Regions from separate parts of the Homo sapiens genome. Here region 2 is linked to region 1. Evidence: fine-mapped expression QTL. Tissue or cell type: prefrontal cortex. Region 1 holds a variant in brackets; the other region holds the start of a gene. All regions are shown on one strand. Distances are between the middles of the regions.

Region 1 (2,760 bases):
TCACGAAGAGTTGGCTCTCAGAGCTTCAGTCACCTTCCCGGCATCCATTGCTAGGAGCCTCAGAGGGGACCTGGGGGCCAAGCCAGAATTGTTAGGGTAGAATCAGATCTCTAGGACTCCTGGATGCCAAAAGGATATTTTTACTTGTGTCTTCACAAGATGCCAGACTCTCCCTCTGCTAATAGCTCTGGTGTGCTATGTGCCATCATCTTAAAAAACACTTTCACAGCTTCCATCCTGGTAATTCTTATTTCTCAGCCTTTTGCTTTCCTATCCACCCACAGAGCCAGTAACAATCCCCCAGCCTCTGCCTAGTGCCCACTGAATCACACTGACATTGGCATCTAATTGATTTCTTTCAATCTGTGGATGAAATGAAACATTGTTTTCATCTAGCCTGGAAGGAAGGTGGGTACTGAGGAGGCGATGTCGGAGGATTTCTGGAGGAAAATTCAGTAATTCTGCATATCAATAAAATCCAAACAGGACAGTGAGTCCAGCTTATATATCCTAAGTGTGGATCTTACAAAATTAAAGCTAAAAATTCCCAAGCAGGTGTGTGGGTGAAAAGTAAGAAGCCAGACAGTGATAACACAATTCATTTTCAACTCCTAATAGGAGAAGTGATGAACTTTATTCACCTCCCAAGCTGCATGGGGCATGTATTGGACCACAAAGTAGAATAAGTGGCTCTATCAGAAGTGCCCTTCCTCCCTTAGTGCTCATGCCACACTCATGGAGTGTATTCAGTGTAACCTGAGAGATTGCCCCAGGATGGAGGCAAAAGACCATTTTGGCCACAGTTTTTCTGGAAGACAGGTGAAAATGGTCTACAGAGACAACATTGAAACACATACAAGATTTCTTTTGCCATTTTCTTGCTTTGGGGAGTAAAGTCTTTGCCTCCTTGACAGAGAAAATTTTGCCCCTCCAATTCCTTCCTTCCTTCATTCTCTCACCAAATATTTATTGCTAAACAGTGTTCTAGGCATCAGGGCTTAGCAACTATCTGTCCTGGGGACATTCACACTTACATGTAGAAAAAGAGACAAGTCAGCAGTCCATTTCATTGCAGTGTAACAGGTTTTGAGATGGAGGGAACAGAGTCCTGCAGGGGTACTATGATGGGACACCCAATCCAGGTGGCTGAAGAGTAAGAAGCAAGACAGTGATAACACAATTCATTTTCATCTCTTAATTTGGGATGTGATGAATTTTATCCACCTCCCAAGGATGGAGTGCTCCAGAGAATGGGGATTTCAGGGAGGAATTTTCTCAGAAGG[C/G]CTGTTCAGGTAGGACTTAAAAGAACAGGAGATATATGTCAAGAATACAGAATAATCCTCAGCATCCATGAGGCAAAGCATTTTTCATGGTCAAGGCCAGCTGTACAAATAAGATATTGCCCTCCCACTGCTTCTCATCCTAAGACCCAACCCCTTAACACAGCAGATCAGACCCTGCACTATCTGATCCCCATAAGGGGGCCCACAGTTATACCACATTCAACCTCCCCATCCCTGAGGCTTTGACCTCACTTGCTTTCCTCTCCCACACACCTTCCCAGTCACACTCTTCCCCCTCTCTGGACCACTTTCTTTGCCTAATCTCCCTTTTCACTCTCCAGCTCTTAGCTCAGGAGAGCCATTTGTAGTGGGTTGAATCATGTCCCCCAAAACTCATGTCCATCTGAAACCTCAGAATGAGATCTTATTTGGAAATAGGGTCTTTGCAGATGTAATTAATTAAGATCATACTAAATTAGAATATGCCCTAAATCGAATGATTGATGCCCTTATAAAAAAAAAGAGTACAGAATGCACAAGATACACACAGGCACAAATGCCAAGTGACAGCAGAAGCAGAGATCTAAGTGATGCAGCTATAAGGCAAGAAACAGCAAAGCTGGCTGGCAATTACAAGGATTTAGGAAGAGGCATCTCCCCTGGAGCCTCGAAGGGAGCATGGCCCTACCAACACCTTGATTTTTCACTTCTAGCCTTTGGAACTGTGAGACTATACATTTTGGATGTTGTGAGCCACCAGGTTTGTGGTAATTTATTATAACAGACTTAGAAAATGAATACCTCTTTTCCTGACCCATGCTATCCCACCCCAGCTTGTTCAGAAACATCCCACCTCTGTCCATATACACACACACCACTTTTATACTCTTCTGGCAATCTGAACTTCTCTCAGATATCCCTTATCAAAGTTTGTAATTACATAGTTATTTTTGTAATTTTTTCATTGTTTGTCTCTTCTACTAAATTATAAACTCTATTTTTGGTAGGGAATCTTATTTGTTTTAAAACACCTTCAAATCATCAGAGCTTAACATGATGTAGGTCCTCAATAAATCTAAGTCTATTCATTAAATAATTATCGATCTATCCCTACAAATGTGAATAACCACAAGAAATAAATTAAGTAAGTGCCAAAAGAATGGAAGAGAAGGGTGGGAACAGGAGCAGAAGAGAGAGAACCTGATAGTATGAAATTAACAGAGAAGGTTCTGAGAAATTAGGAGACTTGCATTATTGTATCTTAAGTGGATTTCAGCGAAGACTCAAAGGCATGTGCTTAAAAACAGTGGCTTTTCAAACTCTTTTAACCATGACCCCAGTAAGACATACATCTTAGTCATGACCCAGTGCATGTATTAATAGACGGATTTCATGAAAGAGTAGTTTAATGAAGCAGTTCTTCCTCCCACTATGTGAATGTGCCCCATTGCTTTCTGTTCTACTCTATTCTGTGCCT
Region 2 (2,760 bases), 830 kb after region 1:
GACACAGCATCCCATCCCTTTGCTGTATCACACAACGAGAACATTCTCTTTTAAGCCTCCTGATATGTGAAGGAGAAAGTCTCTGTTAGGTGCTAATGGGTATTTAACACCTCTCCAAACCTTGCCAATCTCCCTTTTTCACTGAGGGCACACATCTCAAGCCTTGGCAGGCCACGGTTTCCAGCTGGAATTTAATAACCTTGCTTTGTTTTCACTGTGCTTATTTTAACTCTTACTTTCTATTTATGGCAAGTGATACTGATTTCCCATTTAAGGCAGTGATATAATGATTCTCTAAAAAAACGTGTTTAAGGGGTGGGGAAAGTGGATCTGATATTTTAAAAAATATATTAAGTAATAAGTGGTGTGGAGATATGGCCCAGTGAGAAGGCCCGATGTCTGGCCTAGGTCAAGCCCCTCATTTAAAGGTGGGGAGGGAGAATGCAGGCAGGAGACGCAATGCTCAAGGCACCTGGTGTGTCCCCGTCGGCCGTGGTCTCTGAGACTCGCATGCCTCGAAGACCTCTGGCTACTAAGCCTAGGTGACTCCCCGCCCCTCTGGGCGACACGTGCATGGCCCATGTGCCAGTCCGCAGGGTCCCGTGGGCACCGTGAGCTCGGGAGGGAGGCGGCGGCTGGGACAGGCAGGTTGGACACCTGGGAGGGCACCCGGGGACTTCCGCGAAGGAGGAGGGCGCTGGAACCGTGGCGCGCTCGACCTGGCCGGGCGCAAGCCGCTGGAGACCCCGGCCGAGTGGGCAGGCGGCCGGACCCCATGCGGGTCACCTGCGGCCAGGCCGGGCGTGCGTGTGAGCGCGTGCGCAGACGTCAGCCTCCGAGGCCCGGGCCGCCTTCTGGGCAAGGTGCGCGCGCCCAGCGGCCCCGGCCCCACGCGCCCGGACACGCGGAACCGCAGACCGCGGCGCCCCGGAGGCCGCGAAAGGGATGGGCGGGGCCGGGCCGCGGGACCCGCCTCCCATTGGCCGGGCGCCGGGGCGAGGCGGGGCGCCGGGGTGGGGCGGGGCGAGCGGGCTCTGGGGGGCAGACGCTGGCGCTGGGCGGCGGGAGGCGCGGCTCGCGGGGGGCCGAAGGAGCAGGTGGGCGACGCTCGCAGGGGCGCGGGAGGGTGCCGCTGGGACCGTCATCAGGAGCCTGGGGTTCTGCCACCTTTCGGAGGGATCAGCGACCTCTTCGCCCTGCGGGTGACAGTGGGGCATCTGCCTGCGAGAGGGGGAAGGAGGGAGAACCCAGGGCCACACACAAAGTTCTCCTCATCTGGGGACAGGAGGAGGTGAAGGAGGAGGAGCCGGGTTGATGCTAACTTGGAGCTGCGAAACCTTGGGGCGGCGTTCAAGGCCCCCTCCCACACGCGCGCAGAGCAGAGCGCCCTGCTCCTCCTTCAGCTGCTGGCGTCGCCGCGCGGGGAGAAAGAAGCCGTCCCTCCGGCGCTGGGAGAGCTGCAGAGCCGCGGGCAGAGAAGGAGGCCGCGGCCGAGCCCGGCAGCCCGATACCCCCCATCCGAGCGACCCCCTTTGGGGCAGGCGGAGAAGGTGGCATAGGCGACCAGGAGGGTTCGCCCACCTGGGACACGCACCCACAGTCACCTCCAAAGGACCCCCCCTCCCCAAGTCTCTAGGAGCTGCTCCTTCATCACTGGAGTCGCCCCTACCTCTCTGCCCCCAGCCCGAGAGCCCCAGGCGGGGACCCCCGGATCGGACGTCCCCAAGCCTCCGGGCACCTGGCTCAGCAGGAGGCCCCCGGCTCGGGGCAGGGCAGGGCCGGCGGCGGCGAGCCGGAGCCCGCCCCCTGCCCGGGCCCCGCCGAGCCCTCGGAGCCCACCCATGGGGCACCTGCCCCTTGCGCCTCCTTGCCCGGCCGCGCCCAGCCCGGCGTCCCGAGCAGCGCAGGGGAGGATCCCCGCGCAGTGACCCGGGAGCCACCACAGACTCTGGGAGGCTCGGCGGCTGGAGCAGCAGGCAGCTCCCCGCAGCTCCCGGCGCTTCCAGGCAGCTCTCTGAGCCGTGCCAGAGGCCCGGCCCGCCATTCCCAGGTAGGAGACGCCCCAACAGAGCTGGGCATCTGGGGGAAGTGGAGCAGCCGGGAAGAAAGGGTAGAGGCTTGGAGGAGGAAAGCTCAGTGATTCCTTAGATGACCAGAGAAAGTGAAATTGATTGAGCACCTACTATGTGCCGGGATCGTCTGGCAACTTTGCATACCTAGAGAGAATTAAATTCGTTGAGCACCTACTGTATGTGTCAAACTGAGTGCTATACCCTTGACTTAATCCCAGGAAAGAAAGATTTATTGAGCTTCTACTATGTGCTAGTTTTGGTGCCACAGGCTTTGCATTTAAAGAGCTAGAGTAATAGCCCATTTAAATAGGAGGAAACGGGGGCTCAGGGAAGACGAGTCAACTACCACAAACACTCCTGTCCCTCTTCTGGAGCTGGCTGCAGCCTGCATTACCTGGAGGTGGGGAAGGAAGATTAAGAAGCTCCTTCGTTATCCAGAGTTCTTGAGCTTTTTCTGGGTTGGTGCAGAGTGAGTTTCCTGGATGATTCCCTTCCCAGGAGGGGTTTCCTGTAACTTAGCTGTCTTGGAGGGCCCGGAAGGCAGCTCTGGAGGCCTCTCTGTGCCCTCCCCTCCCCTTGTCCCCAGCACCAGGAGGATGACAGGGGATGTTGTCCAAGACCTCATGGAAGGTGGGAAGCCAGGCTGGGAGGGAGCAGCCAGGTCAGGAGCCAGTGAATCAAGCCTCCT

Alleles and levels. Alleles are on the strand shown, and positions count from the first base shown. SD is a standard deviation of normalised expression in the study named.
With allele C in place of G in region 1, the expression in prefrontal cortex of the gene that starts at base 1,381 in region 2 is lower (large effect, 0.91 SD a copy in GTEx).

What was found. PIP is the estimated chance that this variant, and not a neighbour inherited with it, causes the effect.
Region 2: RASD2 starts here. The variant in region 1 is the best candidate, but not a certain one, in a credible set for the expression of RASD2 in prefrontal cortex (GTEx, PIP 0.87).

What each region holds. Positions count from the first base shown.
Region 1 is chr22:34,712,828-34,715,587 of GRCh38, forward strand. No RefSeq gene overlaps it. Among named protein-coding and RNA genes, the nearest start is that of LINC02885, 280 kb to the right of the region's middle. The variant C/G (reference allele first, on the strand shown) is at 1,284.
Region 2 is chr22:35,539,451-35,542,210 of GRCh38, forward strand. RASD2 (RASD family member 2) reads left to right here and starts at 1,381. Exons shown (of 3, transcript NM_014310.4): 1 at 1,381-2,050. RefSeq lists enhancers at 43-605, 606-1,168, 1,169-1,731 and a silencer at 853-1,072.